2 linked regions of the Homo sapiens genome follow. The protein of the gene in region 1 interacts with the protein of each later gene in a pairwise test. Each region holds a gene or a part of one and is shown on either strand. Other genes may lie near its edges. The genes, in order: CCDC85A and SYTL5.

The links.
Region 2: the proteins of CCDC85A (region 1) and SYTL5 interact in binary tests that used the Homo sapiens proteins (3 or more experiments, as listed by UniProt).

What each region holds. Positions count from the first base shown.
Region 1 is NC_000002.12:56,363,545-56,379,614, reverse strand, and holds part of CCDC85A (coiled-coil domain-containing protein 85A), read right to left. Parts: intron 7,272-16,070; coding exon 7,137-7,271; intron 3,800-7,136; coding exon 3,680-3,799; intron 1-3,679. UniProt on the Homo sapiens protein: May play a role in cell-cell adhesion and epithelium development through its interaction with proteins of the beta-catenin family.
Region 2 is NC_000023.11:38,005,327-38,021,396, forward strand, and holds the start of SYTL5 (synaptotagmin-like protein 5), read left to right. Parts: upstream 1-1,226; 5' UTR 1,227-1,342; intron 1,343-16,070. UniProt on the Homo sapiens protein: May act as Rab effector protein and play a role in vesicle trafficking. Binds phospholipids.

The sequences.
Region 1 (16,070 bases):
GAAACATATTTTTTAAATAGCTGATTGTTCTGAAATCTATTTGGAATGATTCTATTTGATTTTCAAATGGCCATTAAAAGCAATCCATTGCATCACTAATAATCAATGGAATTCATTAGTGTCTAAAATAAGTATATGCATTTACTTTGGTCATTAAGATAATCTCACTGTATCAACAATTTGGATATAGTCAATAACTCTTGCTCCACTGTAATGATGACCAATATAATTAACTATGTGCCAAATGGTCCAAATGATATGTAGACATGGCCTGCATAAAAGATGACTAAAAAAGATGATAGTGACAGGTGAAACTGGTCAAAACCCAGGAATATGCACGTAAGAACTACTGACCTCGCAGTTCTTGCCTGGACATGTTCCCAGTGCCTAAGAAAAGGCATGTGGAGGTGGCTCTTTGATAGTATCAAAGAGAAGCACTGGCTCCTTATAGTGAAAATATTTGAACAACACTTTAAATATTTTTCATGAAAGCAAAATGTCTTGGAATAAAATGCCTTTTAAACAATTTTAGAGGCCTATGTTTCCACTTCTCTAAATTAGCCCTAAACACGTTGAAAATAATATTCCTTTAAAAATGTCTAAAGTTTTATTGTGGGTACCTTTTTATACTACAAAAGGAGAAAATAACTTTGGCTTTCTGTGCTGTTTGTTGTTTTTATCTATATCAGTTTATAAATCAAAGTGTTGAAGTAATACAAAAAACTAATGCTCTCCCTAGAAGTTCCTATAGAATCCACACCAACTGCAACACTGCTAAGCTACTTGATTCTACTGTCATCACGGACAATGCTGATGTTCACATCTGCTACCTGTGAATTTACACCAATTGAGCCAAACTAAATGACTTAAGCATGAAGTGGGACCTTCAGGTCAAGTTCATGGACACTATCTGAATCTAACTAGAGTTCGATCCTGTAATAAATAATCTGATCACAAACTACACTCATTAATTTGAAACGTCTAGCCATTATTATTATAAAAATGCCACTTCTGAGCCCTGATACTCACCTCAGATTACAGTTAATTTACCTTCTTTACATATTTAGAGAAAATCACTGACTGTGCTTGGTGAATATTCATAGAAAACATAAAGAGCTCCTTCCTTGAGCAAGCTCATTTACCTACAAATTTGATTTGTAATGCACCTCAGAGAAGTGTACTTCAAATCAGTTAATTTTTACTAAATGAAGTAAAGCTCCAATTAATAGTTATCATAAATTTTAAAACAAGAAGAATATAGTGTCATCACAAATGTACTAATTTCTTACAGTGCTTTACATTTCCCACAAACCATGACCACAGATTTTATAAAGCCTAGCGTTTTCTATAAAATCTATCAGAAAGTGAGAAACTGAGCCACTGTACTAATTATTCTTTTCACAATAGACATATCTCATGATATAAATCAGCTCTAGACAGCTGGCTCTCAAAAACAAAACATGTCAAGTGGCCATAATTTCTTTTTCTTATAATGAAATCTTTTTAAGATGTATTTCCCAAAACTGATGTTTGTACATATTTCTGTGTCCTAACACAGTTAACTCATGGAAGTAAAAACATTTGATATTCAAGGGTCCCCAGTTTTCTAATAAAGATGTTTCACTTGCTCAGTATCACTCATCTGCCAACCAAGGACACTTATGTGTACTGAATATAACATAAAATCTCCCTCTCTTGAAACATATATATCTTTTTTTTTTTTTTTTGAGACGGAGTTTCACACTGTCACCCAGGCTGGAGTGCAATGGCACGATCTCGGCTCACTGCAACCTCTGCCTCCCGGATTCAAGCAATTCTCCTGCCTCAGCCTCCCAAGTAGCTGGGATTACAGGTGCCTGCCACCACACCCTGCTGAATTTTTGTATTTTTAGTAGAGACAGGGTTTCACTATGTTGGCCAGGCTGGTCTCAAACTCCTGACCTCATGATCCGCCTACCTTGGCCTCCCAGAGATAAAATTTTGTATGAAAATTAGAACTAAATTCAGAGAAAATTGAGGAGCTCTTCCTTGCCCTCCCCTTCCTTTTAGGCCACACTAACAGCTGCTTTGAGAAATCTGGAAAATATTTCAGTGTGACTCACTATGCTGATCTGATTCAAATAGCAATTGCCATTTAATAAGGCAACAGGCTGAAATGGCTTTCAAACAGTTTGAATAGGAGGACAAGTTGCTGCTGTTGGAGTGTGTGCAGATGCTATAATACTACAAGATTGAAGCCAATCTCTGGTCCATTTTCTACTTTTAAAATGCTTTTCAGATAGCTAGTGCCTGATTCATGCTAAAGTTCATCCAAGTGCTGCCACAGAGAACAAGATATTCAACAGTCCATAAACCAACACCCACTAGAGGCAAAGCAGTGCCCCCTCACACTGGCTGTGCCTTCCCAGGAATTCCTCTCAGTTGCTCACTTTGTGAATTATTCCAACAAAGACAGAAAATGCCAAGTGCACTGTCAGTGGCCACTAGCATGGTTGCCCTGCCTTCCCTCATCAATAATCAGTATATGTTTAGGAAAAGCAAATTCATTTTGTATAAGCTAAAGCAAAATATCCTGAGGGAGCAAAATCTTCTGCTAAAACTTCATCATCTCAAAGTGAAATAAACATTTTGAAGTTCTCATCTATGTATTTGTTTTGTGCATGCCACAGAAAGTGTGGCCCACTCCAAAAGAGGAGTGCATCTCCAGGCTGATGATAAATCATTTTGAAATTGAAACAATTTTAAGAAGAGTTGTGAAACTCACATGGTAAAAGCAGATCGGAAGCACTCTACCTGTTTTATGGGTCAGAAAGGTTTGATCAAAGCTACATGTTAGAAATTATAGATAGATTTGTTAGACAGTGCTTCATACATTGAAACTGATAAAATTTCAAGAAACCATCTCAATTTGTAAGATGATTTTTATCACCTGTGTTAGTTTCTTCTTTGAGATAAGTAAATATTTATATTGTTTATTTATTATTAATTGTACCTATAGTCCTGATTTTTCATTAGTTTTACTTATTGGAAAGCTCATTATTGGTAAAGAAAATAGATGACAAATTTTAGGCAATTTTTTGTGAAATCACTGCAAAATGTGAAGGAAGACACAAAAGTAAAGTAGCTTTATGTATAACACCATATATCTGTTTTCTATTATTCTATAACGGGGCATTAACTGGAGTTTGAGAACCCAATTTCTACTTAGAAGAGGAAAGAGTAGGTTTTTATTTATTTCAATATTTTATTTAAGTTGCATAATGTACTTCAATTGCATCAAGAAAGAATACTGTGGTATCCTTCCATATTATGACCAACTATTAACTTCCTATATTTGAAGACATCCACGCTACAAACATTGCACATAAAATACCTATCACAATTTTTTACAAATATGGATATACATGCACAGACTGTAACTTCGATGCCGATAGATATGAATCACATTCTCAAAACAAAACGATAAAACTAGAGATTCAACCATAAGTACTCAAACTCATTGTCAGTTTAGAACAATAAAAATCATACTTCAAAAATTAAGATTTAAAAAGTTACACCATAAGGAGTCAAAAAATAAAATATCTATGGTTCAAGCAAGACTGTGAGGACTACTAGACTACAGCGAACAAGCGACGACACAACTGAAGCTCTGGATAAATGGTTGCACACGATTGGTTACCTTAAGAGAATGTACCACAGGTTCAGGCTGCTGGGAAGGTGTGGCATGTCCACTGAAGCTAGCTGCAGAGTTGGGTGAACTGTTACTCCCATCAGCCCCTGATGACAACCTAAAAGAACCCTTAGTAGAAAATCAACAACTTTGTTATTAAAACAAAAGTCGTTTATAACTACAAAGATGTCATTCAATATTCAATTTCACTACCAAATGAGAATTAGCCATTTTGTTACTTTTTCCTAACCTAGTCTACAATGCTATCAATCTGTTCATTGGAACACACTTGCTGCTTGACCAGCAAGAAAACATAAAGAAGAGCCACTTCAATACATTGTCAGATGCCATCTCTGAAATGCCCCACCCCCAAGGAATGGCCCTTAAACACATTTCAAGAATGATTTTTGAAACTCAAAGATACTTAAGAGTAGGAAATTCATGAGTTACTCCATAGCTGAGTTAAACATGCTCACTCAGCAAGCCAAATGCCATATTCCATATGTCTCAGAATATGCAGACACATCACATTCTTGTGTTGGAGAAACTGTGTCTCTTATAAAACCCTTCTTTGAGGGAAAGACCTATAATAAAGCATTTTCAAAAAAGATTTATCCAAATTCAACGTTTTCTTTAAAAACTGAAAATTGATCTTTTCTGCTCTTTTTAAAGATGAAAAACAGAATAGATATAAACTACATATTTTTAGTTTAGTGGTTCTTCAACTTAATTGGTGAGAAACTAGAACCTGTACATGATTAATTTGACATGTGCAGGCCACATTCTTCTGTACAAGCACTGGAAATTTCCCCTAAGGATCTGTACTTTTTCTAAAGGGTGCTTGGGGGAAGACTAATGGATCAGTAAAGAAAAAGAGAGTATCAGTTATCTACTCTCCTAGAAAAAGCAGTCACATGGGAATTTTCCAAATCTATTTTTATGTAGATCATTACACTATTAGAGAACCTGAAATTTTAATTTCTGCCTATCAACCTATTTACAGAATTTTTCATGTCTAATTGATTAGTAATTGCTCCATTCAAGTTGATTCTATCAATCTAACACCCCGAAGAGGAGTCACTGAAGGTGTATCATGAGAATTCATAAAGAGAGAAACAACGGTAGTTTGGAATATTAACTTGCAGACTCTCTCCATCGCCCAGGCTGGAGTGCAGTGGCACGATCATTGTTCACTGCAGCCTTCAACTCCGGGGCTTAAGCAATCCTCCCACCTCAGCCTCCTGAGTATCTGGGACTACAGGCATGTGCCATTATGCCTAGTGACATTTTATCTTTTTCACAGAGACAGAGTCTTGCTATGTTGCCCAGGTTGGTCTTGAACTCCTGGCCTCAAGTGATCCTCCTGCCTCAGCCTCCCAAAGTGCTAGGATTACAGGCATGAGCAATCCTGCTCAGCCAAGAGAATTTTTATGCTGTACATTTTAGAGATAAGAAGAGAAAACTGCACCCAGCAATTATAGGTATGGATTACATGTAAACCATGCTTTATAAGGAAAGTTTATTATTATTAACTTAATGTTATTATTGCAGATTATTATTTTTGCAATTTGGAAGATTTTCTCCCTTTCTTTCTTGCTGTCATTTCTCCTATGTCCTCAAAGGCTCCCCCTGCCACCTCACTAGCCTACTGAGGCCACATTCTTTTCCCTGCTCAAAGAGTTCTATAATCCAGTCAGGTCCTGCACCCAGCCTCACTGGCCAACAAGGAGAGGAAGCAGTAGAATATGGCATGTACGTGGCTTCCTCAGTTTCTGTCCTCCATTGCTACTAAAACTAAAATGTACAGCAGGTGATGAAACAGGATTGTCAATTAGAACAGACCCAATCCCCTGTGGGAAAGGAAATTAAAACATTTGTTTTCCTGTATTTATAAACCAGATCAAATCAGAAACAATAATGCCTAATACATCTAATGGAAGGGAAATTATCTGAAGTTAAAAGATGGTTAAGGGACACACCCTTCACCCACCCTCATATTTTGGACATCTTCTTCCTCTATACTTTGGATCCTTTGGAATCAAATGGTTCCAAAATTAAGGAGTTATAAAAGGAAGCTCCTCTTTCCTGAGTAACCCTGGTCCTCTACTCTTCTCTTTTCCTCCTGGTACCACTCTTATGAATGCTTTTCAAAAGATTTCTCAGGTTATACAGAATTCGCTTCAAACTCTTGTTTAGGACCCACCATTGCAGTGCCATATTTCCTCTGACTTAGAAGTCATATTTCCTCTAATTTAGAAGGCAATAAACCTTCCCACTCTGAGCTACTTCCTTCCTGTTTTTACTTTCAAATCCTTTTCTGCCCAGCCTTTCTGCTTCAAATGTTCTCTTTCCAGACCTGGTAAAAAGATAAGCGTATCAATAATACCATCCTTTTGCTTGGGCATGGGCCTCTATCGTTCAGGGCATTTTGGTTTCAGAGAACTTCTAAAAATCAATGTAAACAACATCCTTAAACCAAATCATCTGAGCCATTTTCCATTGTTTAAATGTAAACAAAGTCCTGTTCTGGCCATATCTATTAAAAAACACACTTTTTTTTTTTTTATGAAAGTAGTTTTCTTTAAAAAATGGGATGGGGGCTACAATAGTATTTTGCCTGGAGTATACAGTGGGGGGAAATTCATCATTTAGGGATGAATGTTATACTTCAAACTAGCTTTGGGAGCCATGGACTACAAATCAACCAGAAAGATCAAGGCTTATATTTTATTTTGTTTTTGTGAAGCCACAAAGGTAACCAAGTGCCTGGTGAAGTTTACTTCCAACAGATGTTAAATAATTTTTCTAGACTGCAATAACAGAATGAAGCACCTCATTCTACTATATCTCATTTAGTACTATAAAATAAAAGGTTAGTTTTCTATGCGCTTAGCAGAATCAGACCAATATTTGGAGAATTATGAGGGTTCAATTTACATATACTCTCAGTCGACTAATACATTTTCACTGAACTATTTAAAAAAATATGCTACTGAGCCAAACAGGGAATTTAAAAAGAGAAAAATCTTACTAAAACTGGAAATGTGATTTCCAGATTAAGTGGCTTGTTTTCAAGCTACACATGATCACACAGTGCATGCATCACCTCTCAGTCAGTAGACAATTTTAAAGGGCAAAGGAGTACTTTTCTGAGCTTGTCTAGAGACATGATTTTCAAGACCACTGACCTAAACTCCTTTTATCATGAAATGTCCAGGGTACTTTTGTTCTTCTCTCCTGCATGCGGTTGCTCAACTTTCACCCCCAGATGTGGGGGAAAAAAACAAGAAAACTGTTTAGGAGGTGAAAAATTCTACTCCCATCCTCCCTCCCCAGACTTAGACATACAACTTTCTTTCATGTGTATGAACTTGTTTTCTACCCCCCAGTATAACTTTTTCTCTAGCAACAGAAGTCATCTGGTTATGCACAAGCAAATGCATCCAGCTGACTCATCTTCACTCACCGGGAGAGTAGGCAGGCATCGTCCTATTCCTCGGCACCCTTGCCACCACTGCAAGACCCGCCGGGCTCTGGACCCCCAGCCTTTCTCCATATTTGAGCTGTTTCTAGTTGGAGGTTGCCTTCTATTCTGGCTGGCCTTATATTTGGAACAATATGGTACAATCACTCAGAAAAATACTGTTTCCCAAGTCTCAAGAAAGCAGATAGAACATGAAGCTTAATGAGATGAACCACAATGACCACAATGGCAAGCTGTAACATGCACCTGTAGCTAGGGAAAAAATAAAAATAAAAACAATCTGAAGTCCTACATATTAGACCTAATCCTGATTTAAGTTTCTGGTAAACATATAACTACATTATAAATTCTATCAAAAAGTAGACGATAAAGTCAAAATTACAGAAAAAACTTGAAGGTATTTAAACAACTTTATTTTATGGGTTTTACCAGCATAAAATAATAATATGCTTTACCTGGATATTATACAGAAATAAACTACATAACTTCAGAACTTAACAAAAGTTATTTGAAATACAATTGGGAGCACTATGCCCTTTTGTTAAGAAGTGAAATTTGGGTATACATATTCAATAATACTGAGAAAATTAAAACTGCATCAAATTTTTAACAAAATTTCTGCATGTTGAAGAGAATGTAATGAGCTAAAAGGTCATCACTGCATTAAAATAAATATTTTACATAGAAAAATCTACATAATCATCAAACTTTGTATTCATAAGTTAACTAAATTTTTATGTATTTATTAGAACTAGAGGCATCACATAATTGAAAAGAAAAAAGTCCTTAATTTTAGCTTTTTCCATCACCAAACTGTATAATCCTATTAAAATGATCAGAAACAAAATGAACTTATTAGAACATGATTTCCTCTCCTGCCAACTTTCACAGAGACCTATAACTAAGAATATAATGTCCCAAGGAATAAGAAAATAATTTTAATAATTTAATAATTTTAATTATGGAAAATACGCAAAATGGTCCCAAAATTCTAGTGTCTAAATGTTGAGGTTGACTTTAGAAGACTGAAAATAAGAACATAAAATTTTAATTCTCATCAATTCATTTTTTTTGAAGTTAGCGGCCTATATCTGAATAGTACTGGTCCAATTTTCACTCTTCTCTAACTTTTGGAGGTTGAAAAAAGAAAATGCACCATGGTCTTAAGTGAAGTAAGAAAGAGAAGAAATAATGACCAGTAGTTGGTACTCACAAAACTCTTTTCTGAACCTATTAAATTGGCACCAGTGACCTATAAAAATAAGTCACACATACTCTACTTCTCACGTATAACAGAGGCAATTATATATTTGCACTTGGGTCATAATGATAATTTCATCATAGCAACATTAATTTGAACATTGCTCTTTTGATAATTAGTCCATGTGTAGTGTCTAATTTGTTTCCATCATCAAAAGAATTATCTCCAAAAATTTATAACATGATTCACAGCTTAATACTCACCTCCCACCCCAATCTGCATAATTCTATTTCTGAGATGATCATTAATGAGTAATGCAAATTTTATAATTATTTTTACAAATAAGGAGATCTAGTATCTGAATTTGATTATTTCCATAACATGCACCTCTCAGATCTTATCCTTTTTGGATTTAACAACTGAGTAAAACATATAGGCATTCTACTTTCATTCTTTCTTAATGTGTAGCAAGGCTAAATCCCAATTCCTCTCCATTGTAACAAAGCTTATCATCATACCCATGAAATCTAAGGTAGGATCTATGCCAACTTAGAAGCCAGCTGGCATGAGCGCCATTTAGCTACTATGTAGAGAACTCACAATAATTTCCAACTTTCAGAAAGTAGATACTACATAAAACAATAGCTATACTTTAAGTATTATAAAATGTTCCTTTAAAATATATTAAATATGTATTTTATAGTATTATTAATCTCATAAGGGGGAACAATAAACAGGGGCCAGATCTTTGTGGAAGAATAAACTGATGATATAACCATTTTAAAGGAAAAGGCACTCTTTTAGAACCAGGATTAATTAATTTTCTCCCCATGTCAGCATATATATTTTTTTAATCTAGGTATATAGAAAAGTGTGTTCTGGGCCAGCCATCATCATTAACTTTCAAATAAACTACATCAAAATGGTATTTATACACTAATGAAGGCTTAGTGTTTCGCAGGGCCTACAATCACCAATTACAGTGTTTGCTGAAGACAGTTTCATAAAACGTAAGAAGCCTTCAGTAATTCAGTCGTTAAACTTGTTTCTGGCAACTTGGGGGCTCAAAATGGTGGAACTCAGATTCTGGTCACTAATTGGGAGAACAATTCCAAACAGTCTTAAGATCGTCACTTCCTATTTTCTGAGGAATTCTGTTTCACTTAGTTTTGTTTTCTGTAGTTTTCTAAAATTCCAAGTTTGTGAAAAAGAATCCCTGAATGACCCTAACACTCCCATTGTGTGAGAAGTAAATTATAGATTACTTACTCTGTGGTAAGTACTCACAGAAATCATAAAAGAATATGAAGAAGTATGAATCACTGAGTCTCTTTAAGTTTCGCTATAACTGTACTAGTCAATAGTTTTTATTCCTTGAAAACTCTGGAAACTTCTATAGAGGTAATAGTGTAGGGTTTTTCAGAAAACGAAGTATTTCAAAAATTTGTGAGGAGGAAAGAAGAGTGAAAATCAAGTACTGAAAAGAAGAAAAAGGGGGAAATGGGAAATCCGAACTGTACTTCTCACTCACCAGGCATCTCAGCGAACTTCAGACACACATAAAGGTTCCTCTTGAATGATGAACAGAAAAAGTCCCCAAGAACTATTTGTTGGAAACCTCAGTAATAAAGTATGAAGTGACCTATGTTTTAAGCTAAGAAGAATAAGTCAGCCTGACTTGAAGACTTTTACCTTGCTGACTTTGAAAGGCATAAAGATGGGCAAATGAATTCACATATGGACATTTGCATGGGTTTAGCATGAGTCATAGCCTTTAGTCCTCAGGACTTTCGGGGTCAGATTCTGGTTAGTTCTTCAAACTTCAACAGGGTATAAAATTCTCTGTACTTAAACATGAAATCAACATGAAGTTTTGAACAACTACATCTGCAACATTTTCTCTTCAAACTACGACCATTCTAATAATAAATAGTTCTCATCTATTTATTTAAAGACGTACAACATTCTCTAAGACATTATAGTTTATCTTTCCCTTATTGCTCACAATGAGCTATATATGTAAATGAAGGGAATAAAAACCAATTTTGCAAAAAAATAGACCATTTAACTTTTTTACACTGTCGTGTTTCTTTTCTCAAATTTGCGTGAATTAAGTGTTACTGTTCCTCATAGAAATAATGAAAAACACTAAGAAATGTCCAATATTATATGTTATCTAAAATACATGAATCACAAAACGATGATCACTCAGAATTTGATGTGTGATCTCTGCAGTAGGGAAAATTACCTAAAAAATAAAGCTCCTAGAAAAATCCTTTATAATGTTTTAATTAGTAATGAAGTCAAGGAAATTTTTTAATTTAATGAAAATTCTTCCTAAAAAAAGTTTTGTTTGCACGCCAGAAAAATGGAAAACAAATATACTGAGTTTCTTATTGAATATATACATATACATATATGTACATATGTATGTGTATATATAAAAATATATATGTACTATATAAATATTTCCAATTGACTAAAACTCACATTCAATAGAGTAATACTGTAGTGTTACATAAAATAGTTTCTCACTTTGATATAAATCAGATGTAATGCACTTATAACAAATTTGAGACCCCAGCCCTCTCATTCACTATAGAAGGCCAACTACGGAAGCCTGAAGATTGATCAGCTAAAGTGGTTTCCTGTTACTTAAAGATGCTTAATTTTTTATAATTCCTGAACTTGGTTAAACTATCATATAATATTTAATACCTCATCAGAGTGTATGCCTAGTTTAAGGGGGAGGATAAATTCAGTTTTCCCTTATTACAGGGCAAGGCAGATACTTTGCTTAATCTCATCAGGGAAATAATATTTTGTTCAGTTTGGCCAATCTTCATTCTGACATATTGTAAAACTGTCCTAGCAAATAAATAAAAGCTCTGATTAGAAGAGATTTTAAAGGTCACCTTGGCAAACCCTCTCCAAGAGATTCTTGTGCATAGGCTTAGAAATGCTAAGACCCTCTTGCCTTACTCTAATGTTAATATTTAGTCGGTTATATCCAAAGAAAAGTGCATTTTTCATTTAAATTAACTAAAGAATCTATTCAATGCTGATGTAAAATAATAAGTAATTTCCTGGATGTATAGTCATTCATTTATTCACTTAACAAACATTAATTTAGTAACTATCAGACGTGATATTGCATGCAATGCCATATAGATACCTATTCCAACGAATTTTTGTTGAAAGAGAAACACAGTGAGTTCAAATCACAGACTCCAGGGTCGCAGTGCCGGAGTTTAAATTCTTGATCTGACACTTATGAGCTGCATGACTTTGGACAAGCTATATGGCCTTTCTGTGCCTTAGTTTCCTCATCTATACAGTGTAAATAATAATGGTAAAATGGTACGGTCACTCTATGGGCTTGGAAACTTACATGGAAAGAGCTTTTAAAACAGTGTCTGGCCCACATAAGTGCTCTATAAGCATTTGCTGTCCTTATCATGAATGTTTTTGCTTTGCTTGTCAACATATTTTATAACTTGTCAATTTATGTCCGAATGTTTATTATTGAGAGTGTCAGTTCTCATTGGGGGCGGGGGTGATTTGGCCCCCAAGAGAAAACATTTGGCAAAAATGCCTGCAGACATTTTTACTTGTCAAAACTATGCAGTTTCTACTGGCATTTAGTGGGTAGAGGCCAAGGATGTTGCCAAATATCTTAAAATGCACTGGACAGACCCCTCACAAAGAAAGGATTATCTAGCCCAAAATGTCGCTATAGCTGAAGTTGAGAAACCCTGATTTAGAGAAAGAGAACTATGTTGGGAAACTACAAAGCAAAATTTCTGGTGACAGCTCTATAGCAGATTTTGCATATGAGGACATGTTGCCCACAGGATTTGGAGCTTGAAAGGATTTAGAAGGAAACTCCTTAAGCTTCAGCCCTCAAATGGTCTAAGTATAAAGGCAGCCACATTTCCACCCCCAAATAAGAAATTACTCCAATAAAAGAAACAGAATTGAAAATACCCATATCATCCTACTGTAACAACACTAGCAGAAAGAGAATACGCTGTGGGCAGGCACAGGGCAGTGGTCCAAAGGAAAGAGTTCTTGAGATAGAGACATATAGTATGCTACAGTACCTAGAAAATCGTGACACCAGTCCCACATAGAGAATACAATTGGCAGAAGGGGCTCTGTGGAAATTATGGAAGATCATAAAGCTTACTTAACAATTTGCTGGGCAAAGATTCTGCACTTAACTTGAAGCAGTCACATTAGGAAAGAATAAAATTGCCAGCAAATAGAAGTGGGGGCCCTGACACATGAAACACATCTCAGTGCTAATGAAAGCATTATAAGATAATGGCAAAAGATTAAATAGATAAAAAGATAAAAGAGAGATTAAATCATAAAAGATGAAAGAAATAAGAAGGAGAAATCTGGACCAGGAGGCGACTACTCTCTGCGTCACATGTGGTGAAGGATTGTAGCCTATGTACAGACTCCTCGGCAGGCAGAGGACTTCTTGAGGGCCTGTTTTTGACATAACAGCTCTCAATCACTAAGCTCCTACCACGTTAGCACTACCCTAAGTGCTGTCCATTAAAAGATTAATAAAACTGGCTAATGTGAGTTCCTAAAATGCTGGGTGAATATCCAAAATATAGAAATAACTCAAACATCTCAATAGCAAGGAAACAACCCAATTGAAAAATGAGCAAAGGACCTGAATAGACATTTCTTAAAAAGAAGACATACAAATAGCAAAGGATTTATGCAAAAATGCTGAACAGTTCTAATCAAGAGAAAAATACAAATTAAAACCACAATGAGATCACCTCATGCCTTTTAAAATGACTATTATCAAAAAGACAAAAGATGTGTTGGCAAGAATATGGAGAGATGGGAACCCTTGCACACTGCTGGTGGGAATGCAAATAAGTATAGCTATTATGGAAAACAGTATGAAGTTCCTTCAAAAAATTACAAGTAGGACTACATATGATTCAGCAATCCCACTACTGGGTATACATTAAAATTAAACAAAATCAGTATGTCAAAGAGATATCTGCACTCCCATGTTAACTGCAGCATTAGTCATAATAGCCAAGATATGGAAACAACCTAAGTGTCCATGAATGGATGAATAAAGAAAATGTGCTATCTATATATACAACAGAATACTATTCAGCCTTAAAAACGAAGGAAATCCTGTCACTTGTCACAACGTGGATGAACCTGGAGGACATTACACTAAATGAAATAAGTCAGGCACAGAAAGATAAATACTGCATGATCGTACTCATATATGAAATCTTAAAAAAAAAGTTTATTTCTACTTAGAGAGGAGAAAGGTGGTTACCAGGAGTTGAGGGGATTGGGAAGGAGAAGGAAATGTCTGTCAAAGGATACAAAATTTCAGTTAGACAGGAGGAATAATTTCAAGTGATCTACTGTACAGCATGGTGACTATAGTCAATAATTTATTGCATTCTTGAAAAATACTAAGAAAGTGGATGTAAAGTGTTCTCACCCAAAAATGATAACTATGCGAACTGATGTATATGTTAATTAGCTGTATTAAGTCATTCCACGATGTCTAATACTTTAAAACATCATGTTGTACACAGTAAAGATGTAATTTTATCTATAAATGTAAAAAAAGTTTTTTTAAAGATACTAACTGTGGGCCTGGTAATGTTTTCAGTAATTTATACCCCAGAGTGATTTTTCCTTCTTTGGGTCCCAGAAGTCTCCTTCTAGTCTATGCACTCATTCTTTGGCTCCTGGGTTACAGAGAGATCCAGATGATCCTAGGGAGGGTCAGATTGGTTGGAATAGCTCAGCAGCCTTCGAAGGAACTGGATTAGAAGCATGTTAATATGAATAACTGATACAGATGAACTGCTACACACCAGATTAACATCAGCTCTGTGCTCATTTGACCTTCTCCACTCCAGGCACATAACTGTGGCTGCAACCATTACATAAAATGTGTATCTATCCTAATAAACAAATGAAAGTAATATTAATTCACACACCCCTCATTTATTATGCCAAATAATGGCTGAGATTGATGTCTGTGGAGTCACAGTGGACGTAGTAAGCAGCTTCAATTCAGAGAACCAAAAATCTTAGGCTGCTGACATGTTCAGGAAAATAAAATTAGTTCTATCTTCCTGTAGTAGAAGGATGTGAGCACAGGATATGAGGCCCAGAGTAGCAAAAGCTGAGTCCAACATGACATGCAGGAGTTGCATGGGAAATCTCCCATGCCGTAAGAAGGATTTGAAATTTATTCTATGTGGAGCCACAGATGTAACAGAAACTGATTGGTGGTGGACAGATTGATCTGGTAATAGTGTGGAGAATGATTTGGGTGAGGCCAGACTACCTGGGATGAAGTTCCAATTAGGAGATCAACAAAGAATTTGAAGGGAAAAAAAGTATTACTTATTGCCTACACTGGAAAATAGCAGAAGAAATTAAAAGGACAATATTGATGGATTAGAGGGCAAGACCCTATGAACTTTAATGTCTATTTGAATGTAGGCAGTGAGGTTGAAGGAGTTATCCAGGATGACTATCAACTTTCTGGTTAGGTACTCGCTAAATGGTCATGCTATTAACCAGCATAGAAAATACCGGGGGAAGTAATAGATCTAACTCTTTCATCAGATTTTTAAAATCAAGATCAAAGAAGTGATTAATAATGCAAAGCCCTCAAGCATTCTTTGTCACGAATACCCTCCAAAAGGTTTTCTCCTGACATGTGAAATAAGAGAGTTTGCAAAACATTTAAATTTAAAATGATATTAACTTCATGCAGTGCTCACTGTATCACTGATGAAAATATCTCTGCAAACAATAAAATGTTATTGGAAGGAAAAGAAAGTAATTTTGAAATACCTGTTCCTCCAGGTGAAACTTACAGATACAGAAATATAGTTCCCAGAAAAAATAAAACGAAATAAAAGTAATAATTACAGAAGGTTAGCAGGATGCCTTTTTACAAAAATTACAAAGGGCAAACCCCAGGAAGAAAAGAATTAATATCTTTTGAAAGGGCTAAGACAGAAAACACCCAGTGTCTCTGTAGCCAGAGTGACGGCAGATAAAGAATAACATTGAAGGCCTGGTTGAAAAAAAGAAAAAGAGGCTGTTAAACAATACCTAGGAAACATAGGCAACTACTTCTAGGCAATGAGTCTATATGCTTAATACTTGACTTTTATTAACTATAGAACTCCCAGTGAGAAACACTGAAATTCCTACAGAAAAAGACTGATACTTCTAAATTGCTTTTCAATCAGGCTGGTATTAAATAGTAAAAGGTTATGGCATTGTTGCTGAGAACATATCTGAATACTTTCAGGTTTTGGGCTTATTTTTTAAAAGGGAGAAAAGGAAAGCACAAGTAGGACACGGAGCGTAAGGGCATGGAGCTGAATTGCCAGTATGGATGCAATGGCAAAGAAGTAATGCTAATTAACATTGCATCTGACTTGCAGACCAGAGCCGATTAATAATTGTGTTAAACACCTCAGCATGCTATCAGGGCCCAGGGGAACACATGCACAGAACTAGAGCCCCAGGAACTAAACAGTGACTTAAAATAAATATTTGCTGAATTGACTAAGAAATATTCCACTGTGAGGTGGTGTTTGCTGCCCTAGCTTTGGCAAAAAGAAGGGTCTTAGGTTCTTTGATGAATCTTCTAGTATATGAAGCTCCCATGCAAAATGGGAAAG
Region 2 (16,070 bases), on another chromosome or scaffold:
GCAAAGAAACAAGAAAATATCACCTATTGTCATAAAATCAGTAGAAACAGACCCAAAAATGTCCAGTTGTTAAACTTCATAGAAAAAGACTAAATCAATTATTATGTATTCAAAGAACAAACAGAAAATAGGTTCAAAGAATGAAAGGAAAATATGATCTTTATAAATGTACAGATAGTGAATTTCAGCAGAGAAATGGAAACTATAAAAATAACCACATGGAAATTTTAGAGCTTAAAAAATTATAGTAACTGAAATTAATAACACACTAGATGGGCTCACATTAGTTTGGAGATGGCTAGCATCAAATGAGCTTGAAGACAGATCAAAAGTAATCATCCAATCTGAAAAAAATGGAACAAAACATGTATCTCTAAACTTTTTAAAGGTGTTGTATTGACTTCTTTTGTATGAGTTTTTTAACATAAGAAAGTAATAACTCTCTTGGTACTTCAAGCTAGACTCACGTTTTCGATTCTCCAGGACACCACCTTTGGGGTTCCCCACTGTAGCTAAAAGGGACCTGGCTATGGTAACATAAATGGGTAATCACCTTGGCAGAAGTGATCTTAACAAAAATTTCACTTACTTCAACTAAAGATTCAGTACCATACAAGCACTGAGAAAACCTCACTCATTCTCTAATGTTCAGCTGAGCAATCACATACTGTTACACATTTGTCTTCTAAAAGTCATACATACATAGCACAGTGCTATGATTAGATACCTGGACTATGGTTATGGAGTGCCTGGATTTAACTTTTGACTCCAGTACTTACTAACTGGGTGACTGTGGGCAGACTACTTAGTTTGTTCATTTGTAATATGGGGATAATAATATTATACACCTAACACATTTGGAGAATTATTGGAGAGGATATATGTAAAGCACTTACAACAGTGCCTGGCACATATGTGTTCATTGTTATCACGTTTCTCCCAGGTTTTTTAAGAATAGAGATTTTCAGGGGTAGAAGAATATTAAAAGAGTGAATCACCTTTAAAACACTGGTGTAAAAAATACCTCATGTCAAAAAATGTTTAAAATGTGCTTTAGATGAAACCTGTTACCTTTCCCCTGCTGATCAACAGAGACATTCCTTTTTGAAAGCTCAGCTTTAGAGATACTGCCTTCTTCTTGAAATAGCTGTCTGCAACAGATAAACATTACTCTGTGCTACTGGGTGTGTTCAATGTGTAAATAGATTGTGGGAATATGAGAGGCTGGTTTTTCAAGTTCCTGCTCCAAGTAGTTCACAAGGGTCAAGTAGTCCAGCATTCTACAGTTTGTGTGTTTGAGAGAAAAATAAGCCCATAAAAACATTCTAACCTTCAGATTAAGGTAAGACTAATGCGTTTAGGGATCTCCAGTGTGATATCTGATTTCTTAATTTCTGTATTTTGTGTGTGGTAGGGGAGTAGTGGGATTTGCTGGTCAGGAAGAAAACAGCTCCTTCCACCATTTGATATTGTATTTTACAGTAAAAAAGGGAGAAATATGTACAGAAGGGACATTTTGGCCATTGGTAGCTATGAGTTTAATGGATTGAGGAGAGAAATATAAGTATCTTTTTGTTATTAACACTTGATTCTATCTATGAAGTGAAGCATTGCACTAGGTTCTACTGAAGAGTGAGTGCCTCCAGGAACAAATATGCATTCTAGTGACATAAAAAAATCAAATTCACAGCAGAAGTGTTGCATCATTTTGCTATAAATCTCTCACACCTCTCTATATAAACCTCTCACATCTCTATATAACATAGATTGTCCTTTTGCTCTGAATTTCTTTCATTTATTAGAAAATTTAGATGTTTCATTTGGAATTATTTAATTGTTTTTACATTCAGTTCCATTTTTGATATGGACAAATATCCAGTATGGATATAAATTCAGTAGAAGGATTAATAAAGTCTGAAAAACCTGGAATAATTTCAACATGAATATGATACTGTAACAGCTTACAGAAATGCGATATTAACTGTGAACATTAATATACTCTGAAAAGATGCATCAGGGTTTAAAAAATTTCTCCTTAATGTAGATTGTTTTAATTACCAATACTGTCTTCCTCATTTAAATGAAAAACGTAATTTTACAACTATTAATATATAACTTCTCTTTGCTCCAAGTATATGTGTATGCCTGGAGAAAAGCATATGCCTGGAGAAAACAGGAGTTATATATTTATAGCATTCAAAATAGTATAAAATATTGTTTACATGTAATAATGCATTTAGAAGTACTACTTCAGTAGTAGCCTCCTTAAAAAGTATTTTAAACACAGGAATTAAGTATATAATTTTTTCATTTTGTAATAAGTTGTTTATATGTTATTTGGACAACAGCTTACACACAAAAGTGTTACAATTCATACCCTAGGTCTTAAATGCATGAAGCCATTTGTTTGGACTCTAGTGAAATCCTTAAATTGGTCCTTGCATCCCTCAGTATATATATGTACATACCCACATATACATGCATATTTACATGTGGGCAACTAATAACTGAGAAAATGTCTTACTGCTCTTTTAGTTGTTGAATCATGCTTTTTCTATGTATTTATGATTTCCTGAAATTCTTTGCTATTTTAAGTTTGGGTATTAGCTATGTTATCCTTCTATTTATTCAGATTTGTTAAAGTCTTCTGATAGGTTTAGTGAATAAAATTATTGAGCTTCTACCTCTTTTCTTTTGGAGGCCCATTTAGTATTTTTGTTGAAATTACTTCCTTATTATTATTTAGTATGTTAAGGGAAGGAAAAGGAAATGTAGCTTTAATATGTAAAATGAGCAGTTCGTTTTACTTAAGCTCTATTATATGATGATGTATCTTATGACTATTTTGCCATCCTGCGTAAGCACTTAGCTAATCATCTTTAATACATTCTACTTAAAATCTACTTGTAAATATGCTTTTGTACATTCATATCTTACTTGTCTGTGGTCTCTCATCCTCTTTCTCTCTCACCCCTCTATATACATTCACACATTTTCCATGATTTCACAAAACTTCTCTCCAACCTCGTTCCATTCCTGGTTATCTCTTTCTGTGGGGAGTATCATCATTTCCTTTGACCTCTGTTTCTCTACATCTTCCATCTTGCTTAGCCCATGGACTTTTGATTTTACTGAAGACAGCAAAAAAGCAGATGGTGCTTCTGTTACTTGCAGAGTTAGCAACCGCTGTGGTTACCTTAGGTTCTGAAAGATTATCTAAAATAGGGAGGAGCTCCTAGAGGAACAAAATATAATAAACATGTAGTGTACTGGGATAAAAAATTCACTTGATCTGGTCTCTCTCTCCTTTTAACAAAAACATTTCTCTAAGAAGTGATTAATAAAACATACCCTACTGCCTCACTTTCTCTTTTAAAATCTTTCTTTCAAATTCCCCTATGACATAAAATCAATCTTCATCACTTTATTGACACTGTACTTCCAAGGGTCACCTGTAGTGCTGCTAGGAAATTCAAGTACATTCATTTATTTATGTATTCATTCATCCATTCAATAAATATTTATTTAGTGACAGCTATGCATCAGGCATTGCTGAGCACTGAAGTTACAGTAGGGAACACTTAAGTCTGCCTTTATATATCTCCAGTCTAGTTAGGAAGGGTGTTAACTCACCCAAATAATTCATTACAAGTGTGATAAGGGCTATAAGGAATACTTTTCCAAATTCTCATTTTATTCATCCCCTTGGCTCTATGTGACACACATGATCAATTCCTACTTCTTAAATTTTCTCTTTCCTTCTTGTCCATGACTCTATACTATTTATTCAACTGCTTTTCTACCACTTCCCTTCTTGTCTATTTTTCCTTTTCTCTTCCTTAAGTTTGGGTTTCCCTCAAAGGTTTAGCATTTATTTAGCCTATAACCTATTACGTTTTGCCTTTCTCTATAACTTCTTATCAACCCTTAGTTTTAAATATCACCTCTAAGTGGATACCTCCAAGACTTCCATTTCCACATCTTATCTTTTCCATCTGCTATACATTTTCCCACTTGTATGTCCAAGGGTCACTCGACATTCATCATGATTGTAGCCAAACTCACAGCTTTTATGTCAAACCACTTCCCCTTTCATTTCATTTGTTTCTGTGAATGGCATTAATGATCTCTTGGTTTCTCACATTTGAAATCTTGGAGTCAATTTTGCTTCTAACTTTTCCTTTGCTCTCAATATCCAAACCACTACCAAGTCCATTCATTTCTTTAATTATAATGTATCTAGAAGCCATCCTCTCTCATCTCCCTTTTCTGTTATTTTTTTCTTTTATTCTCTATTTTCTCATCCTTTTTTCCCTCAGTCTAAGAGCTACCTACAATTCAAGGTTTTGGTCAGGCCCCATCTCCATCAGAAAGTCCACACCTCATGGATATCTTCTTTTTCTAAGCCCCAGAATCATTGGGGTAGTGAAAAGAACATAGCCAAAGAGCCAGGTTTAAGTTTTGATTCTACCATTCACTGCCCCCTGTGCACTCTCTGTGAACCACAGTTTCCTCAGACTCATTCTATCTCATATAGTGGCCACAGGAACAAATATAGTCATGGAGAGGAAATCATTTTGAACTATGAAGAACTATATAGATATTAAAGTAAGATTTGTTGCTGGAAGAATAACTCAGTAGCAGAGACCAAAACCCCAGGTCTTAACTATTGAAATCATATTGTGCAGGGGTTGAGAGTGTTGACTCTGCAGTCAGATGACCTGAGTTTGAATCTCAGCTCTGCTACTTACCAGCTGCATGAAATTGAGAAAACTTAGTTAGCTTTCCTGTTGCTGAGTTTCCTCACTGTCAATTGGGGATAACAATAGTTTCTACTGATAAGAGTGTTGTAGGATTAGAACGTTTAGTAAATGTAAAATACTTAAAATAGTGCCTAGCTCATAGTAAGTGCTCTGCAAATGTGGAAGAGGTGGTAGGGGCCTATGAGGCTAAGTGTGGTTACGAGGTGAAAGCCAGGTATTAGAACTGAGCCACCAGATGGGGATTAGGTACAGCAAGGATGCAAGCACAGAGCTACAGACTGGACACATGTACCTAGATGAATCCCTCATGATTCAGATAAAAAAAAGAATGATCTTGCCATTTGGGGCAGAACTGAGCAAATGATGGAGGTATGAACGTTCTGAGCGACCATTCGGGGCACAAAAATGGGGATAACAGTCTTTCAGACACATTTTCTTTTTGTTAAAGAAGAACAAATGTTAGATTGCCCTTTTGTGTTGTGAAATATGTCAGTATATCATGGAATCAAAATGTCAGTATCCAAATAAATGTCCAAATGTTGAGAAAGCTGACTCAACTGTCCTCTATATTCTAGAAATCCGTCTCTTTAACAGTCATATGCTTATTGCATTTCAGAGGACAAGGGCCCTTAGAAATGTCATTCCTCACAATTTATAGGATTATTGCCCAAAGTGTGTATTTTTACTAATACACTTGGAGATTAGTTTGTTTGATTGTTTCATGTCAGAAAGAAAAATAATAATAATACTTAGAATATTCTAAGGGTTGTTCTAAGTGCCTTAAATTTTTTAACTCATTTAATCTTCACAAGAACCTCATGAGATGAACATCATCATCATCAACATCATCGCCACTACCATTTACATAAGAATAAACTGAGGATCATAGAGGTTAATTGGTAATTGGACCAGATTTCAAATCCAAGCAGCCCAGCACCAGAGGCAATTTTCTCAAGCACTGAGTGCTATCATATCAGCAACTCTGTGTTTTAGAATCTGGTTAAAAGGGCATGCTCTGGAGTCCTAGACTGCTGTTACATGTTGCATCTCCAGTTTTCCTTGACAAGTGGTAATAAATGTTTGATATTTTTCATAATTGATAAAAATTACTTACATAAGATTTATACTAAGTAATCCAATGTCCAGTAATGCTGTGCAAGAAGAGTCTGGTTTTTCTCATCCATTATTCTGTATTTGAGCATCAAACAAAGGCCTCAAATACTGATGCTCTCTGTTTCCTAGAGAGTATGTTATACTGCTGGCCGGGCGCGGTGGCTCACGCCTGTAATCCCAGCACTTTGGGAGGCCGAGGCGGGTGGATCACGAGGTCAGGAGATCGAGACCATCCTGGCTAACATGGTGAAACCCCGTCTCTACTAAAAAAAATACAAAAAATTAGCCGGGCGCGGTGGCTGCCGCCTATAGTCTCAGCTACTCGGGAGACTGAGGCAGGAGAATGGCGTGAACCCAGGAGGCGGAGTTTGCAGTGAGCCAAGATCGCGCCACTGCACTCCAGCCTGGGCAAAAGAGCGAGACTCCGTCTCAAAAAAAAAAAAAAGAGAGTATATTATATTGTTTTGCCCTGTACTTAACTGATGTTGTACCCGTGTACTTAACTGCTGCTGCTGCCCGTGGGGATATTTTCTAGGGTATCTGTGAGTTTCCATCTTTGTCTTTGCTAACTATTTCAAAAGTTCAGGCTCAATTTTTGGAGTTGCTATGTTTGTTTTCTATTTCCTATTTTAACTACTTCTTGTTCATTTAAATGTTCTCTCACCGTAGTTTAGTGGGATTTTTTTTTTTTACTTTTCTCTAAGCGTTAGCTACAAAAATAACTTAATAGGCTTTTAGTTCATTTTCTTCTTCACTGAATAAGAATATTAAAATCAAATTTACCTTCACCGAACACTTAATAACTTTTTTCATTTCCAAGAAGGCCCAGTGCCATTTGTAACTCTTGTTAAAGTTTAATTTAGCAGTTTCCAATTTTTGTAACAGTCGACTTATCCAGGCTAATTTGATTTAATATTTCTAACAGAATGCCAGGAAACACTCTGTTCCTACAATAAGAACATGTCTGATTCATTTAAATGAATAAGAACACGTCTGGTTCATGTAAATAGACTTCAGCGGCATTTTTGTTTTGGTGTTGTGCAGTCAAAAAATATTTCCGAGAGAATATCAGGACTTGGAAAGAAACCAAGAAAATGAATACAAAACAACTCTAAGATACATATCATTCTAAAGCAAGTAAAATCCTCAAGACCAAATAATATAATTTAAACAACCATTTAACATTGATAATGTTTACTAAGAATGGAAGTGGTAGACTTTACCAGAAAATATAGTTGAGTTGGGGTGGGACGTGGGGGTGTGCAATAGAGAAACCAAACTTGGAAAGAAGCCATCAGATAATGATGTTCCAGGTTCAAATATAAACTTTAAATCCAAATATACTTTTATCTGGATTATAAAAACGAAAGTTCAGCAACAGCCCACTTTGTAAACACAGAACAAGAGTGATCATATCAAACAGGTTTACTTAATACAAATAGCAGAGTATAGACAAATCCATTAATATATCCCCCTAAGAGCTATTTATGTACAACAATAGTCTTCTCTCCCTGGTGTGAAGTTACATTAAAATCAGTATATGATTAAAATTTTTGAAATTGATTTCATTAAATCAAGTGACATTATATCAAAGATCAGTTTTCAAACAAAGCAGTAAGAGCCTATTGCAAAATAGGCATTTTTCCCAACTTTCAACAGATAATGGTATATCCAAAGATGTCTGTGGCCACAAACAAATGTATAATTTTTAAGTTGCATATTTTGACTAGAACTAGATATGTACTAAAAAACCATTTTGTGATGAAGAATCACTTCCCACTAATTGAGAGACCAGCACAGGGAGAATACTATTGATCTTAAATACAAGGAAGTCCAGACATTAATATGGAAAAAATATAGATTGGGATGTCCTGTTTGCATTAGCCATGTTCAAGAAGGAAGAATTTAATTTGCTTTGAACTACTCACAGCTGCCATCTAATTATTTTTGTTGACTGTTACAGAGTTTGAGCTCCAAACACAGGAAGGTTATTTCTAAATCAGTTATACACAACAACCAAACAGCTATTGATTTTCTTTCAAGTGAATTCCCATCTGACTCTTATTGTTCTTGTGAATAATAGTCATATGTATGGCTTTATACTTAAGCACAATAGGATATAACTAAATATTGGCTCAACTCAGACCTAAAGAGTAGGTTCCTGAACAGTGAGAATATCATCTAGTGATAATCTTTCACTGCTTATACTGGGAAAAATGTTGAACCTGGGTCAGCAAACATGAAATGTAGGTTCAGTACTGCTCCTAATGATAATGCCAAAGGCTCACACTTTCTGAGGATTTACCGTGACTCAAGAACTATTCAAGTGTTTTCTATGTAACCAAGGCATACAGAGGTTCAGTCATGTTTCTCAGAAATTTTAGAGCCAAGATTTAAACCAGAGTTCCTGCTTTGTACCAGAGTCACTTTGGTCAGCTTAAGTAACTTCCAAAGGCATCTTCCTGGGGTATTTTTTCCTGCTGCACCAATTTTTACCTTTCTTCCTGATTCTCAGGCTCACTCAATCTATACTGGTATCTGCGAACCTGTCACTGACCTCACCCCATCTCCAGCATCTCACTGATTGGTTTCCTCTCCATGATCTTTTCTTAAGGGGACCCTGCATTCTTTGGGCCCCTCATCATTACTCAAGGCCCCTAGATCTACTGGCCCCCTCAGTCCTCCTAGTCCCTCAACCACCACCAACTCCTCCTCTCCTAGCTTAGCTCCCCCATTCCTGCTCACAGGAGCCAGGTAGCATCAGGACCTCCCCAATCTCATTTTCCTCTCTACCCTCTCCACACTCTGACTACTGTTTCAGCTTTTATTTCTTTCTTTAGTCAGGGCAATCTGCTCTGATGTCATATCCTACATCCTCTCTACACTGTCATAATAAAACTCTTTTGGTATGTACAAGTGTGTACCCTCCAAAGCAGGAGTGCTGGGCACTGGTATAAATTTGACCAATACAAAATTAAACACACACACACACCTGTGTGTTATGTTGTATATTATGTTATATATAATATTGTTGTGTGTGTACATATATGTTATATGTATGTATATTTAATTCTACAGTATATTATAGTGGTCAAGAGCACAGTCAATAGAGTCAGACCCCTTAGTCAGAATCCAGCTTCACCACTTACAAGCTGTGTAACACTGGACAAGTTACTTAACCTCCCTCTGCCTTGGTTTTCCTACCTGTAATATGGGAATAGTGAAAGTATCTAAATCAAATAATTGATATTGTAAACCAAAAGGTATCTGAGACAGGTCTCAATCAATTTACAAAGTTTATTTTGCCAAGATTATGGATGTGCCAGTGATACAGCCTCAGGAGGTCCTGACGACATGTGCCCAAGGTGATTGGGACACAGCTTGGTTTTATACATTTTAGGGAGCCGTGAGACATCAATCAGTATAGGTAAGATGAACATTGGTTCAGTCAAGAAAGGCGGGACAACTCTAAGCAGGGAGGGGGCTTCCAGGTCACAGGTAGATAGGAGACAAATGGTTGCATTCTTTTGATATTTTGATAAGCACAATTTACAGGAATAGTCACTTATGCCTTAGTCTGGCTTAGTGAAAAAACAGGGCAAAGGAAGCAATCAGATACACATTTGTCTTCTGTGACAGAGGGATGACTTTGAGTTCTCCCTGTCCTTTGTCCACAAGAAATTTCCCTGTGAGAAAAATTGTGAGGGAGGTATGTAGCTTTTTTATCTTTGTAGGTATCTTATTTAGGAATAGAATGGGAGGCAGGTTTGCCCAATGCAGTTCCCAGCTTGACTTTTCCCTTCGGCTTAGTGATTTTGGGGTCCAGAGATTTATTTTCCTTTCACAATGTAAAGATTGTACTGTTCATATATGTAAATCAAGAATTCATAACAGGGCCTGAAACTTGTATATAAGTGCTGAGTGTTCACTATCATTATTACCATGACTCATAAGGAAAAAGCATTAAGGCAAGTATAATAATGGAGCAGGAAATATACATTTAAGTGGAAAATATAGTACAACATGGATAATATGACATGTGTGATTAATTACGACTTGAATAATGCGAAGCATGTAATTATTTTTGGCTTTGCATTTGATATCTGAGGAATCCCACCATTTCACATGAAAAAGTGCATGTGACAAGGAATCTTCCAGGAATTTTGCATTAGAAGTTCCTTTTGATCCTCCTCAAAACCCTGTGAAGTTAGTACTATTATTATCTCCACCCTGTATGAAAAGAAACCAAGGTTCAGAGAGGTTAAGTAACTTAGTTTCTGTAACATAGTAATTGCCAAAGCTAGGATTTGAATGCAGAGCTTCCTGACTCCAAAACCTGACTCTTTGCAATTCTCCACTTGAGGTGTCCATTGGAACCCCATAGGACGTTAAAAAAAATCCATGGAACACAAACTCAAGAGATTCTGTTTTTTTGAAAAGCAGCTTTTGTGAGATATAATGTACATACTGTACAATTCACCCATTTGAAGTGTACAATTCAATGTTTTTTTTTTTTTAGTCTATTCACAGTGCGTTTAGCCATCACCACAATCTAATTTCAGAACACTTTCGCTCTGGGCGGGCATGTCCACAGAATCCCTGGGGTCTTAATTTCAAAGCCACAGACCTTGTAGGAGTCTTGAATGAACTTCAAATGATTTGTGAACTTTTTCTAGGATCCACAGCTTTCACTATCTTCTCTAAAGTGATAAAAATATAAGCCAAAAATGTATTAAGAAACTCTAGACCAGAATGGCCTTGAACTTTAAGGTACAAATCACTGGGGGACCTTGTTAAAATTTAGATTCAAATTCAGTAGCTCTGGAATGCGCTAGGCCTACTATCATTAATTTTAATGATAGGAATGCTCACTTTAAGTTAGATGTTATGTGCCCTAAAATTCCATTCTTCTCTTTAGTAGATCTATGCTATGAAATAACTGCACTCAATTATTATTGTTATATTTTTAATGTCATCGGTAAAATATTGGCAGACATTTATTTTCTTGATTGATGCATACTTATCCACAAAATAGCTATGGTTTTGGCTCTTGGCGCAAAAAGTCTAAAATATTTACTAATTGTTCCTTAATAGAAAAAGTTTGCCAACCTCTAATATAGACCATGGGGGAAAGCCACCTTTAAGGAGCAGAAATGTTGTTCATCTTACTCTCCACAGCTCCTTGCTACATGTGGCAGACATGACATTATCAATCAGACTTATAGGAATCCTAACCAAGTATGAGGGGCAGCAAGCTGGCTATATTTATGTATAACTCCTCCTCTAGAGGAGAAATCTGGGCAGATGAGGGTCAACTTCACTTTTAGTTTAAAAATACATCTCCCTAGAGCTTCAAGCTGCTCTCCTGGGTGATAGCATGGGTGGGTGTCCACAAAAGACCTTCATGCATTTTCAGTTAGGTCATGTCTCTATGATCTTGGAAGCAAGATTCCCTAAGAGTAGTCTGCAATCCATATAGAGAGCTTGGTTAATTGGGTTTGGATGATGGTTCACCAAACGTACAGGTAGAATATTTTATCTTCTTACACTCACCTTCAAGCTACTTACATTAAGGTGTTTGTTCAGAACATTGAACTTTCAAGAGCTGTCTGACCATGCATTTCATATGTATGAAGGCATTTCTGCTTATTTTCCAACACTAACTCACTTTGAATGCTGCAAAAATGATCTATGCTATGTTAATGCCTGAATATGCATGACTTCAAAATTCTCCAGGCTTCAGGTGGTCTCCTGCACCATAAGCCTCTACTGCAGAGCATCCTCTTAGACATCCATCTTGAACTATTTTTTCCTTATGTCTTAGTCTATGACTTTAGATCTCCTAACTAATGGTTGATTTTTCAGCCAATTTTGTTGTTGTTGTTGTTGTTGTTTTTTGATGCGAGAGGTTGCCCATTCTCAAAACCCACTTCCTTCTTCCAACCAATGCCCATTGCTACAAGGCCCGCAACTGTGTTCAGCTTTCAGCATGCTCCAGGGGAACAAGTACAAAGTCTGACCTGGATGGAATTAGATTATGCACCAAAATAATTCCAGGATTTACTAATTTATATCATTAGAAACCTAGAATGTTAGGCCAAGGAAGATGTAATATAACACTGGATTAGGCCAAATGTATTGATATGGTGCATTTTTCAGAGATTCTGGATTTAGTGTGATACTTCTTGCAGCTGGAGGTGTTGTTAACAGTTTACTTGATTGTTTAGTTGAAATGTGAACTTAGCAATGACCTACATCATTGACTCTGTGTGATATACTTGACTCCCAGTTCATTAGACTTAACTAACTGCTCCTCCCATTCTGTTGATCATCCCTCTTCAGTCTCTTTCATCATCTCATTTATTCCTCTTGTCCCTGGACCAAACCGAAGATCAGGCTGCTTATTCTCATGGCCCGATAACGAGATTCAGATAAGCTGGGAAAGAAGGAAGTTTATTTCTGTAACCGGCTATGGCTGAAAAATATCTCCAGACCAACTCAAAATTACAAAGTTTTTTGACTTTGTAATTTTGAGTTGGTCTGGAGATATTTTTGACAAAGAGCTTATATACCTTCTAAGCTATATGTCTACATGTAAGTGTGCATTCATCTAAAGACATAAGTGATTTACTTCTTCTATTCTATAACTAAGATCTGACTCCTAAAGACCTTCCTCTGGAGCCTCAGTAAATTTACTTAATCTAAATGGGTCCAGGTGCCGGCGGTGATTACCCTTATCTTGTCTCCTGCTAAATCATGGAGGTCTGGGGAGTTCCTTCAGACCCCCAATAAACTTGTTTGTGGAGGTCTGGGGCGTTTCTTCAGACCCCCAGTAAAGTTTGTTTTATCCTAAATGGGTCCTGTTAAGAATTCCTTCATTATCTTGCCATACTTCAAGGCCCAGGAAAGGCCTGGGCAAAACTCTTGGTGGGCTTTTGTTACCTTCCAGCCTTTGTATAAGGGCACTGGCTCTATCAGCTTTTAATATTTAACTTCACCACTCAGTCAGTGCTGAAACAGTTGTTATGGAGGCCTGCGTTAGTGAGACCTGGCCTGCCACACTCTGTCCATTCTTTAAATATTGTTGCTTCTCATGATTCTATCTTTTGCCCCTTTCACTTCTCTTCCTGGTAATCTCACTTGCTTGCACAGCATCAACCACCATCCACCATCGAGGCACCAATGATTCCCAATTAAATACCTCTAGTATAGACATCTGATAAGCTATAAACAGTTTATGGGAAGTTTCCTATTCTAAATGCCTTTCTGGACAGGTCTTTGTTGTTGCATCATAAGTACCTTTGTTGTTGCACCATAAGTATCCGGACCTCAACATATCTAAATTGCAATTAATTATTTTTTTTTCTCTTTCAACGTTTTTTGTCTTGTACTCTCCATCACTGTGAACAGTATTATCATCAACATTTCTAGGCTTTACCCCCGTGTTACTGAATCAGGCTCTCTGGAGATAGACACCCAGAAATCTATTTTTAACAATATACTTAGGTATTCTTATGCACACTAAAATTTAAAAACCTTTGCAGTTCCCCATGCTGGAAACCTCAGAGTCATTCTCTTTTCTCTTCCATACCACCCACATCGAAGAGGTCACTGGATCTTATTGAGATTATTCTAAAACGTCCCAAAAGTGACTCTTATTTTCCTTCCCACTACACAGCTTTAGTTCCTAATCTCTCCCTGGCACTTCTGCAAGAGCCTCCTCATTTTGTCTACCTGACCTTTCCCCTGTCTTTCATCCAATCACTGAGTGCTGGTCTTTCAAAAAACAAATAAAAAATTCAAATATGATTGCGCTGTTCCTTGGCTTTAAAGCTTCAACAGCTTGATGGCATGAGAACAGTTTTCAGGCTTCTTAAGGTCATGGAATTCTTTCTTCAAATAAAATCCTACCAGGAAATCTAACTTATAGAACAGATGAAAACGGAGCTGCTCTGTTTGAAGCAGTCGTCGGCGCCACAGGCTTGGCCACTCAGCCTCTTTCGCTGTGTTTCCTAAGAAAACATTCCTGAAGATACAGTTTGAAAAACACTGGATAAAGTCCATATTCTTTGTTTGGATGCCAAATTCCTCCCACTCTGACATCCCCCTTTCTCTTAGCTTTCCAATATTAACCCAGACCCCAGACCTGGAGTTAGTCACTATTTCTTCTGGACTAGTTGTGTGTTCTTATGACTTTTTCACATTTGCTGTCTCTACAACCTAGAATGACCACTTTTTTCTTCCTAATTGTTTTTTCCTTTGTGTTCTCAAAGCCAAAATTGGGATTTATGAAACTGTGATTTTATGTTTATGCTTGTCTCCACTAGAAAATAATAGAAAATAGAGAAGCCCCTTGAAAACAGAACCTATGCATTCTTCATGAATGTATCCCCTAGATCCAGCACAGTTTCTTTTTTTGTTTTTTATTTGTTTGTTTGTTTGTTTGAGACAAAGTCTCACTCTGTCGCCCAGGCTGGAGTGCAGTGGCGTGTTCTTGGCTCACTGCACCCTCCACCTCCCACGTGGAGGGTGCCTCAGCCCGGGTGCCTCAGCCTCCCAAGTAGCTGGGACTACAGGTGTGTGCCACCATGCCCAACTAACTTTTTATTTATAGCAGAGATGAGAGCTCATTATATTGCCCAGGCTGGTTTCGAACTCCTGAGCTCAGGTGATCCGCCCGCTTCGGCCTCCCAAAGAGCTGGGATTACAGACCTGAGCCACAATGCCTGGCCCAACATAGTTTCTGACACATGATTCTATACGTGTTTACTGCACGAACATTTATATGCTCTATAACTCATTCTATCTGTTCTTTGGTTTTATATTTTCTTCAGACCGAACATGTCTTTTTGAATTAAACATCACTTTAGGAACTAGATGTATTAACTTCAAAGCTATATGACACTCATACTGTTCTTTGCCTGTGTTGTAGCCTAGCATGATAATTATTGATAATCAGTGGATATATGCATTGTGCATCATGACATATGAAGCAGAGGTAATATGGCTATAAGATATTTTTGACAGAAATGCCATTTGCTGTATTTTTTTAACTGATTTTATATGTAACATGTATTCATTGTAAAAACATATAAAGAAAATTATAAAGAAGATATTAAAATACATTTATAACTATCCAGAAATAGACTTAATATTTTGGCTTATTTTTTCTCATTCTTTCTTCTATAATACATATATGTGTGTGCATATATATATATATATATATATATATATATATATATATATATTTCTTTTAATATAATTGGGACCATACTGCATAAGTAATTTTGTATCCTGAGTTTTTTTCACTGCCTTTGTATTGTGAGCCTTCAAGCATGCCATCACATATAAAAAGACTATTAGTATTATTAATAATGGTATTAATTAAAAATTATGATGTTTCTAAGGAATTGCTAAGATTTATAAATTCTTAATAGAAAGTCTAGGAAGCCAGAGACCTCTGGGTATTTTGTGAATCAAAGGGAATGGAGGTTTGTGTTGGACTGATGCATTTTAATGACGTATTGCTTAACTTCATTGAGAATAGAAACGATGGAGGGGTCTAAATTTTCTGAGCATCTGTTATATGCCAGGCATTGTGCTAGACACTTTTTATACATTAACTCATTTTAATATTCAAATGATATATTCTTCAAACCCAGGAAGTAGATATTAATATGCCCATTTAACAGATGAATAAACTGAGATGCAAAGACAAAGTAGCACATCTATGTTATTATCTCAGGGAGTAGAATTTTAATTCCATTAGTTTCCAAAGCCCATACCCTTTCCTCTACCCCACACTTTCTCCAACACCAACTTTGAGAGGGTACACAAAGTCAGTCTTTTATTCTGAAGATGTTGTATTAGCAGTGCTTACCCTGTGGACCATAAGCCCTTGGGTGACCACAGTTTATAAACCCCTGAAATTACCTCCCTTTGTCATTAGAATGTATATGTATATTTTTGAGGTAGAGAGCCTATAGTTGTCACTGATTATCTAAGGGATCAACTGTTCCCAACAATGTTTATGAATCTCTACTGCAAATAATGGGATGTATACAAGTATTGCAGAAGCCCTTTGAGGAGTCTTTAGTTTTGCTTGTCAGGCCCTGTGGTGAGGGGCTATATTCCAATTTTCATTTTAGGCATCACTTCTCAAATGTCTTATTTTGCATTTAATTCATAAATTTA